2 linked regions of the Homo sapiens genome follow. The protein of the gene in region 2 purifies or fractionates together with the protein of the main gene of each other region. This does not show direct contact. Each region holds a gene or a part of one and is shown on either strand. Other genes may lie near its edges.

What was found. Proteins that work in one complex are often made in the same cells at the same time.
Region 1: the proteins of FGF8 (region 2) and DHX30 purify together in Homo sapiens (affinity purification with mass spectrometry; 2 studies listed by BioGRID and IntAct, with this or other methods). This does not show direct contact.

What each region holds. Positions count from the first base shown.
Region 1 is NC_000003.12:47,837,536-47,841,183, forward strand, and holds part of DHX30 (ATP-dependent RNA helicase DHX30), read left to right. Parts: intron 1-3,341; coding exon 3,342-3,643; intron 3,644-3,648.
Region 2 is NC_000010.11:101,769,517-101,773,170, forward strand, and holds the end of FGF8 (fibroblast growth factor 8 isoform F precursor), read right to left. Parts: intron 2,061-3,654; exon of another isoform or gene 2,054-2,060; coding exon 1,947-2,053; intron 1,181-1,946; exon of another isoform or gene 1,104-1,180; coding exon 813-1,103; 3' UTR 593-812; downstream 1-592. UniProt on the Homo sapiens protein: Plays an important role in the regulation of embryonic development, cell proliferation, cell differentiation and cell migration. Required for normal brain, eye, ear and limb development during embryogenesis.

The DNA.
Region 1 (3,648 bases), on a different chromosome or scaffold from region 2:
GTGGATCACAAGGTCAGGAGCTCGAGAGCAGCCTGGCCGACATGGTGAAACCCCATCTCTACTAAAAATACAAAAATTAGCCGGGCCTGGTGGCGTACGCCTGTAATCCCAGCTACACAGGAAGCTGAGGCAGGAGAATCGCTTGAACCTGGCAGGCAGAGGTTGCAGTGAGCCGAGATGATGCCATTGCACTCCAGCCTGGGTGACAGAGTGAGACTCTGTCTCTAAAAAGGAACAACAACAAAAAGGTATTAGAGAAGTTGCACGGACAGCTCCTGGACAGTTGAGGAGGTGGGAGGGAGAATGGGTTGGAGGGGCAGCATGCGCCAGCAGGGGGAGCTGTGGACGAGCAATGGGTTGGCGCCTAGGTTATGGCAAGAACAGTGGCTGGTGGATGTTGGTACAGCTCAGGACCGGTGTGGGAGCATGGCCAGGACCAGCAGTGAGCCTGTGGGGACGAGATCCTCTGGTCTAGTGAAAGAGTGGTTGCAAAGGCAGGGGGAGAACGGTGCTGTCCTGCTGGGGAAGCCAGGCCAAGGAGGGATGCTTGTATTGCTGCTCTGTGGAACCAGAGGCATTCTTGTCAGAAGGGAGGCGGTGACGCAAAAGTGTGGCAGCTGAGCCTTGGATCGGGCCCTGCCCCAAGGGTTCGCGAATGTGTGTGTGGCATACCTTGGCCCCATCGTCTGTCCCATAATCCTGCGGTTTTCACGCGTCTATTCTTAATAGACAGACTTTAGAATTGGTTTGTCAAATGCTTAATAAGAAGCCTCTGCAGACTTTGATTGGAATTGTGTTCAATTTATGGATTAATTTAAGAGGTTTTTGTCTCCTCACACATAAAAGTTCTATCATCCAGGAACATATATCTCCATGGATTTACATCCTTTTGCCAAGTTGTGTGCTTAGTCCATACCTTTCTGACCCACCTTAGTTCACCTTAGGTAGGTGATGGTTTTTGTTACTGTTGTGAATAGAATTTTTAAAATTAAATTTAATTATCTCAAAAACCCAAGGAGAAAGTTTTATGAAGGCAGGCCATGGTCACTCTCCAGCTTGTCATGAGTTGGGTGGGATTGAAAGCTCACTGTAGAGAGGTTCCTGGCCCGTGGCCCGTGCTGTCTGCTGTCACATGGCCCTGATGTTCACCTGACAGGCCTTGTTCTTGCTGTCCCGCAGACTTTGTCGCCTTTACCACTCCCAGTGGCAGCTCCTGCAACCTGTGCTTTCTTTGCAGTTGCTCCTGTTCTCCCAGCTGCTCACTCATCTCACCCACGTCTTTGTTCCTTAGACCCTGGCCATCTGCATTTCTCTTCTGCTGCTTAGATTCCTTGTTTGTTTGTTTGTTTGTTTTTGGAGATAGGGTCTTGCTCTGTCACCCAGGCTGGAGTTCAGTGGTGTGATCATGGCTCACTGCAGCCTCGATCTGTAGGCCTCAAGTGATCCTCTTGCCTCAGCCTCCCAAGTCTCTGGGACTACAGGCACATACCACCACCCCTGGCTAACTGCCTCTTATATTCCGAACTGCTTGAGGGCAAGGACCAGGTCTTGTCTCTCCTGATGATGCTTAGGTGGCCAACATGTTGCTGCGTACATGCTAGAGACTTAGGCAATGTTTAATTTATATTTTCTGTAGAAAAGCATGAAGCTATAACACATTTAAAATCATATTTTTGTATAAATAGCTTTAACATTTCAAGTTATTTCTCTAGAATGTATTCCTAACATAGGATTCTTATATTCTCTTTTTTTTTTTTTTTTTTTTGAGACGGAGTTTCGCCGGAGGTTTGCTCTTGTTACCCAGGCTGGAGTGCAATGGTGCGATCTCAGCTCACCGCAACCTCTGCCTCCCAGGTTCAAGTGATTCTCCTGCCTCAGCCTCCCAAGTAGCTGGAATTACAGGCATGCACCACCATGCCCAGCTGATTTTGTGTTTTTAGTAGAGACGGGGTTTCTCCATATTGGTCAGGCTGGTCTCAAACTCCTGACCTCAGGTGATCCGCCCACCTCGGCCTCCCAAAGTGCTGGGATTACATGCGTGAGCCACCGTGCCCAGCCTTCAGGATTCTTATATTCTTATATATAACTTCTTATAACAGAAGTTGTATCCGTTTCATGGTGTGGGCTACATAGGTTTTTTTGTTTGTTTGTTTGTTTGTTTTTTTGTGGAGTCTCTATTGCCCAGGCTGGAGTGCAGCAGCCCCATCTCAGCTCACTGCAACCACTGCCTCCCAGGTTCAAGCGATTCTCCTGTCTCAGCCCCCTGAGTAGCTGAGATTACAGGTGCCCACCACCACGCCCGGCTAATTTTTGTATTTTTAGGAGGATGGGGTTTCGCCATGTTGGCCAGGCTGGTCTCCAACTCCTGACCTCGAGTAGTCCACCTGCCTGGGCCTCCCAGAGTTCTGGGATTACAGGTGTGAGCCACTGTGCCCGTCTGGCTACGTATTTTTTTTTCTTTTCTTTTCTTTTTTTTTTTGAGACGGAATCTTGCTCTGTCGCCCAGGTTGGAGTGCAGTGCCATGATCTTGGCTCACTGCAAGCTCCGCCTCCCAGGTTCACGCCATTCTCCTGCCTCAGCCTCCCAAGTAGCTGGGACTACAGGCACTCGCCACCACGCCTGGCTAATTTTTTTGTATTTTTAGTAGAGACAGGGTTTCACCGTGTTGGCCAGGATGGTCTCGATCTCCTGACGTCATGATCCGCCCGTCTCGGCCTCCCAAAGTGCTGGGATTACAGGTGTGAGCCACCGCACCCGGCCCTACGTACTTTTTAATTGCTGTATTTACTGAAGCTTCCTAGATCATTATGTGAATGTATCTTCTTGGGCTTGGTGCGGTGGCTCATGTCTGTAATCCTAGCACTTTGGGAGGCCAAGGCGGGCGGATCTGTTGGGTCCAGGAGTTCAAGACCATCCTGGGCAACATGGTGAAGCCCTGTTGCTACAAAAATTCGCTGGGCGTTGTGGTGCATGCCTTTAGTCCCAGTTACTTTGGAAGTTGAGGTGGGAGGGTCACCTGAGCCCAGGAGGCAGAGGTTGTAGTGAGCCGTGATTGTGCCACTGCACTCCAGTCTGGGTGACAGAGCGAGACCCTGTGTCAAAAAAACAAAAAACAAACAGTATCTTCTGCTCACCCATTGCCATGTGGGGTTATTTGTTTGCATCAAAGCTAGGCATCTTTGAGAGTTCCATGCCCAGTTCTGGACTAGGGGCTGAAGTGGGTAAACAGATGAAAAACCACGGCTGCACAACACAACTTAACGGTGTAGCTGGACACGGACCAGGCCGACTGAGGTGTAAAGATGGTATCAATCCTTAAAACGTCCCTTTTCCCCTCCAGGGTTGGGGTCTGCTAGGTCCCCGGAATGAGTTGTTTGACGCAGCCAAATACCGAGTGCTAGCTGATCGCTTTGGCTCCCCTGCCGACAGCTGGTGGCGTCCGGAACCCACCATGCCCCCTACTTCCTGGCGGCAGCTGAATCCAGAGAGTATTCGACCAGGGGGACCTGGGGGCCTATCCCGCTCTTTAGGCCGGGAAGAAGAGGAGGACGAGGAGGAAGAGCTAGAAGAAGGGACCATAGATGTTACCGACTTCTTGTCCATGACCCAGCAGGATTCCCACGCTCCACTCAGGGACTCAAGGTACA
Region 2 (3,654 bases):
CATTATTTCTGGCCCTGAGGTGGCCTGGGGAAGTGTTAGCAATGACCTCTGTAAAGTGCTAGGAGGTACACATCTGAGAGCTCCAAGGACTAGCTAAGAGCCTCTTCTTGCCCCTTTCCCTGCTTCTGTCCTTGCAGGAAAACCCCTCAAGTGACAGTGATGGGGATGGTTGACAGGCAGGTGTCTTTAGGCTGGAGGGAGGCTGTGGTCAGAGCTGGCACCTGGTCATCTGCGTCTCCCAGCCGCCCACCAGCTGGGGCAAGGTTGGAGGGAGGGGCTGACCCCGGCAGGACTCACTCTCCAGCACACATTTTTAATATGCAAGTTAAATAAATATTTCAATCATTTAATAGCCACCAGTCTGATACCCACTTCTAAGAGGACTGCCCTATGTCACAGTCCTTTCCTCCCTGCCCCACCTGGGGGTGCAGTGGAGTCCCTGGCTGCCCAGCCAACTGGCCCTGGAGGTACTGGGGCCTCAGCAGCACAGGCTAGAGAAAGCCCCCCACCCCCGCAAACCCCCAGCCGGAATCCCAGTCTAGGCCACTAATGGAGCTTTCTGAGAGTTAAGAAGACAGACACCACAGCCAAGTGGAATACAAAAATAGAGCCTCTCTTTTGTTTTAAAAAAAAAAAAAAAAAAAAAAACAGCAAAAACCCAACAGCAAACAATATCAACAACCGGAACCCAGGGCTCCCCCAGCACCTCCCCAGCCTGCAGAGCAGCGCACAGCTCATCTTGCTTGAGTTTTGGGTGCCCTACAGGATGAGCCTCTCTGCGGTCTGGCATTGTGGGGAGGGCCAGGCAGCACCTATCGGGGCTCGGGGGCCCAAGTCCTCTGGCTGCCGCGCAGGCTGCGCGTGAAGGGCGGGTAGTTGAGGAACTCGAAGCGCAGGCTCTGCTCGGTGGTGTGGTGGCCCCGGGGCAGCCGCTTCATGAAGTGGACCTCACGCTGGTGCTGCCGCGTCTTGGAGCCCTTGCGGGGCCGGCCCTTGCGGGTGAAGGCCATGTACCAGCCCTCGTACTTGGCATTCTGCAGCGCTGTGTAGTTGTTCTCCAGCACAATCTCCGTGAAGACGCAGTCCTTGCCTTTGCCGTTGCTCTGCAGGTAGGGGAGCCAGACACCACGTTACAGAGCCCCCCCAGCAGAGGCAGAGGGCGAGCGGCCCCAGACAGCAGGTGGGCACCCCAGCAGATGGCGAGGTGGGCAGGAGCCGCAGCCCCACCCCCTGCCTGGGCACCCGCTCTCTAATCCCTCACAACTCGCAGCCCACCCGGCAACTTCCTGTCCTCCCAGGCAGCAGTGACACATGGTTGTCTACGGAGGGGCTGGGCCCCAACGCAGAAAGACAGAGAGAGGGGCCCAGAGCCTGGCCTGCTCTGGCCTCCTGCCCACCAGTCTGGCCACCCGTCTCCCCACCTGCCCCTCTCACCCCCCCAGGACTTCGGTTCCCTGGCCCCAGGGCAGCCACCCTATGGGGGAGGGGAGGCCTGGGAGAAGATGCTAAGACCCCAGCCCCAGAAGCCCAGGAAGTGGGGAGCTCGAGGCTGGAGAGGAGCCGTGACTAATGGAGCCATTTCAGAGCTCGGCCGAGGGGCTGGGCCTGCGGCTTACTGAACATTCCAAATGCTGGTACCATGTAATTGGACATAATAGCAAAGCAATTTGGCGATTTGTTAAAAAGATATATGGAATTTACCAACCACCACCCCCCAGCCCCTTCCCTAGCCTTCATTCTTCCTCCTTCGCCTTTTATAGTTTTCATCTCTCAAACAGCTTCCTTCTCCCTCACTCCTGCACCCAATCGTGAGGTAACCCCAAGATGGCCCTGTGGCCTTCTGCCTACCTTGTTGGGATCAGAGCCCAGGACTGTCTTGGAGGAGTCCAGCCAGCCCAAGCCACTCCCTAGGTCCCGCGGACCCCACCTGCCTGCTGGGGCCTCACCTTGGCGATCAGCTTCCCCTTCTTGTTCATGCAGATGTAGAGGCCCGTCTCGGCTCCTCGGACTCGAACTCTGCTTCCAAAGGTGTCCGTCTCCACGATGAGCTTTGCTGTCAGAGAAGGTAGCAGGATGGCTATTGGCAGATCCCTGACCCCAGCTGGCCCACACACTTGTCACAGCCCAGCAGCAACTGCTCCAAAGACCAGGAACCCAAAACATGGACTCCAGCTCCAGCCCAGCTACTAACATGCTGTGCAACCCAGAGAAAGGGCTTTTCTGGACCTCGGGCCCCACCCCTGGGTTTACAGAGGGCAGTGGACGGGATTATGGTTTTCAAACTGGGTTCTCAAGAGAGGTCTTGGGACTATCAAATTGAAAAGGCTGAAGTGCCATTCCTTCCACCCTCTTTTTAAACCAGACAGTGATGTCTCTTAGATTGAGGATCTAAGTAAAATTTAATTGAATCAGAGTTCCATAGCTAATCAAAAGATCTCCGAGGATCCTTCCAACTCCAAATATTATGTGTGCGTGTCTCACAGGTCATTACAAACACTTGGGTGAAGGGGTGACCTCCAGTCCCAAGGCCAAAGATGAAAGCATTGTCTCCTGTTTCTGCCACTTTGGGTTCTAACTCACAGCTTTGGCCACCCCCAGCCCCTCAACATCACCAGGCTCTGCTCTGCTGAGAAGGTGCTAGGGATGGGGACAGCTCTCCCTAAACACACAGCCCAAAGCAGGCTGCTTTCCCAGAACCTCAGACACCTGCCAGGAGGATCCTGCCTCTTCCCTGTGGCTTCCCAGTCACCAGGGTCCCCAGCCCAGTGTCTAGAAATCAACAACTCAATTGTCTTTTCTCTTTCAGCCTCATCACAGCTGGGCTTCTCAGCCCAGTGACCAAATAGCTTCTGTGGGTGAGGAGGAGGGAGAATCCTGCCTGCTGGCCTCTTAGACTGGAGGCCAGGAGGCAGGGCTGAATTCTATGCCTCCTTTCCCATTCCCCTCCCCTTAGACAGCCAACTTGCCACAGAAGCCTGTCCTGTTCACCTCTCTGTGCAATCATCTCTTATAGGCTGTCCTCAAGAAAGTAGTGAGGGTGACTTCACTGTTTAGGAAGGGACAGAAGGCGCTGGCTCTCCTGCCGTCCCTGCCGCAGAGCCCAGCCTCTCCCCTCCCTGAGAAAGCAGTTCTTGGACTTAGCCTGCATTGACATATGGCACCTCCTCTGTCCCTGAAACCCATGGCAGGGGTTTGGGGCATCGAGGTCAGCAAGTCAGTCATCACTGCTCAGCTTGTAATGTTCCCCGCTTCACACAGGCTCAGTGCTGGGACCAGTGGCCAAGCCCCCGGTTTGGCCCCAAGTCAGCAGGGAAATGCAGCTGTCACCTCCCTGCCTGCCCACCTCCTCCTGGACCTAGCCAGTCTGCTCATCCCTCTCCCGCTCTGCCTTCCACAGCAAGAGGCAGCTATTTTTAAGGGCCAGGAAGGATGCTGACTGGAGGAGTGAGAGGATGCCACTCTGGGGATTCTGGCCAGATGCGGCAGGCAGGGATGAAGTAGGTGCCTCTGCATCTTCCTGGGGCCGGTAAAGAAGCCATTGAGACCTCTCTGCTATTCTCCCCGGACTACTCCTGTCCTGGCTGAACACCCTGAGCCTCTGTTCTTAGGGCCTCCAGCTCCTATCCTGCTGTGGGGCAGGGACTAGGGAAGGCG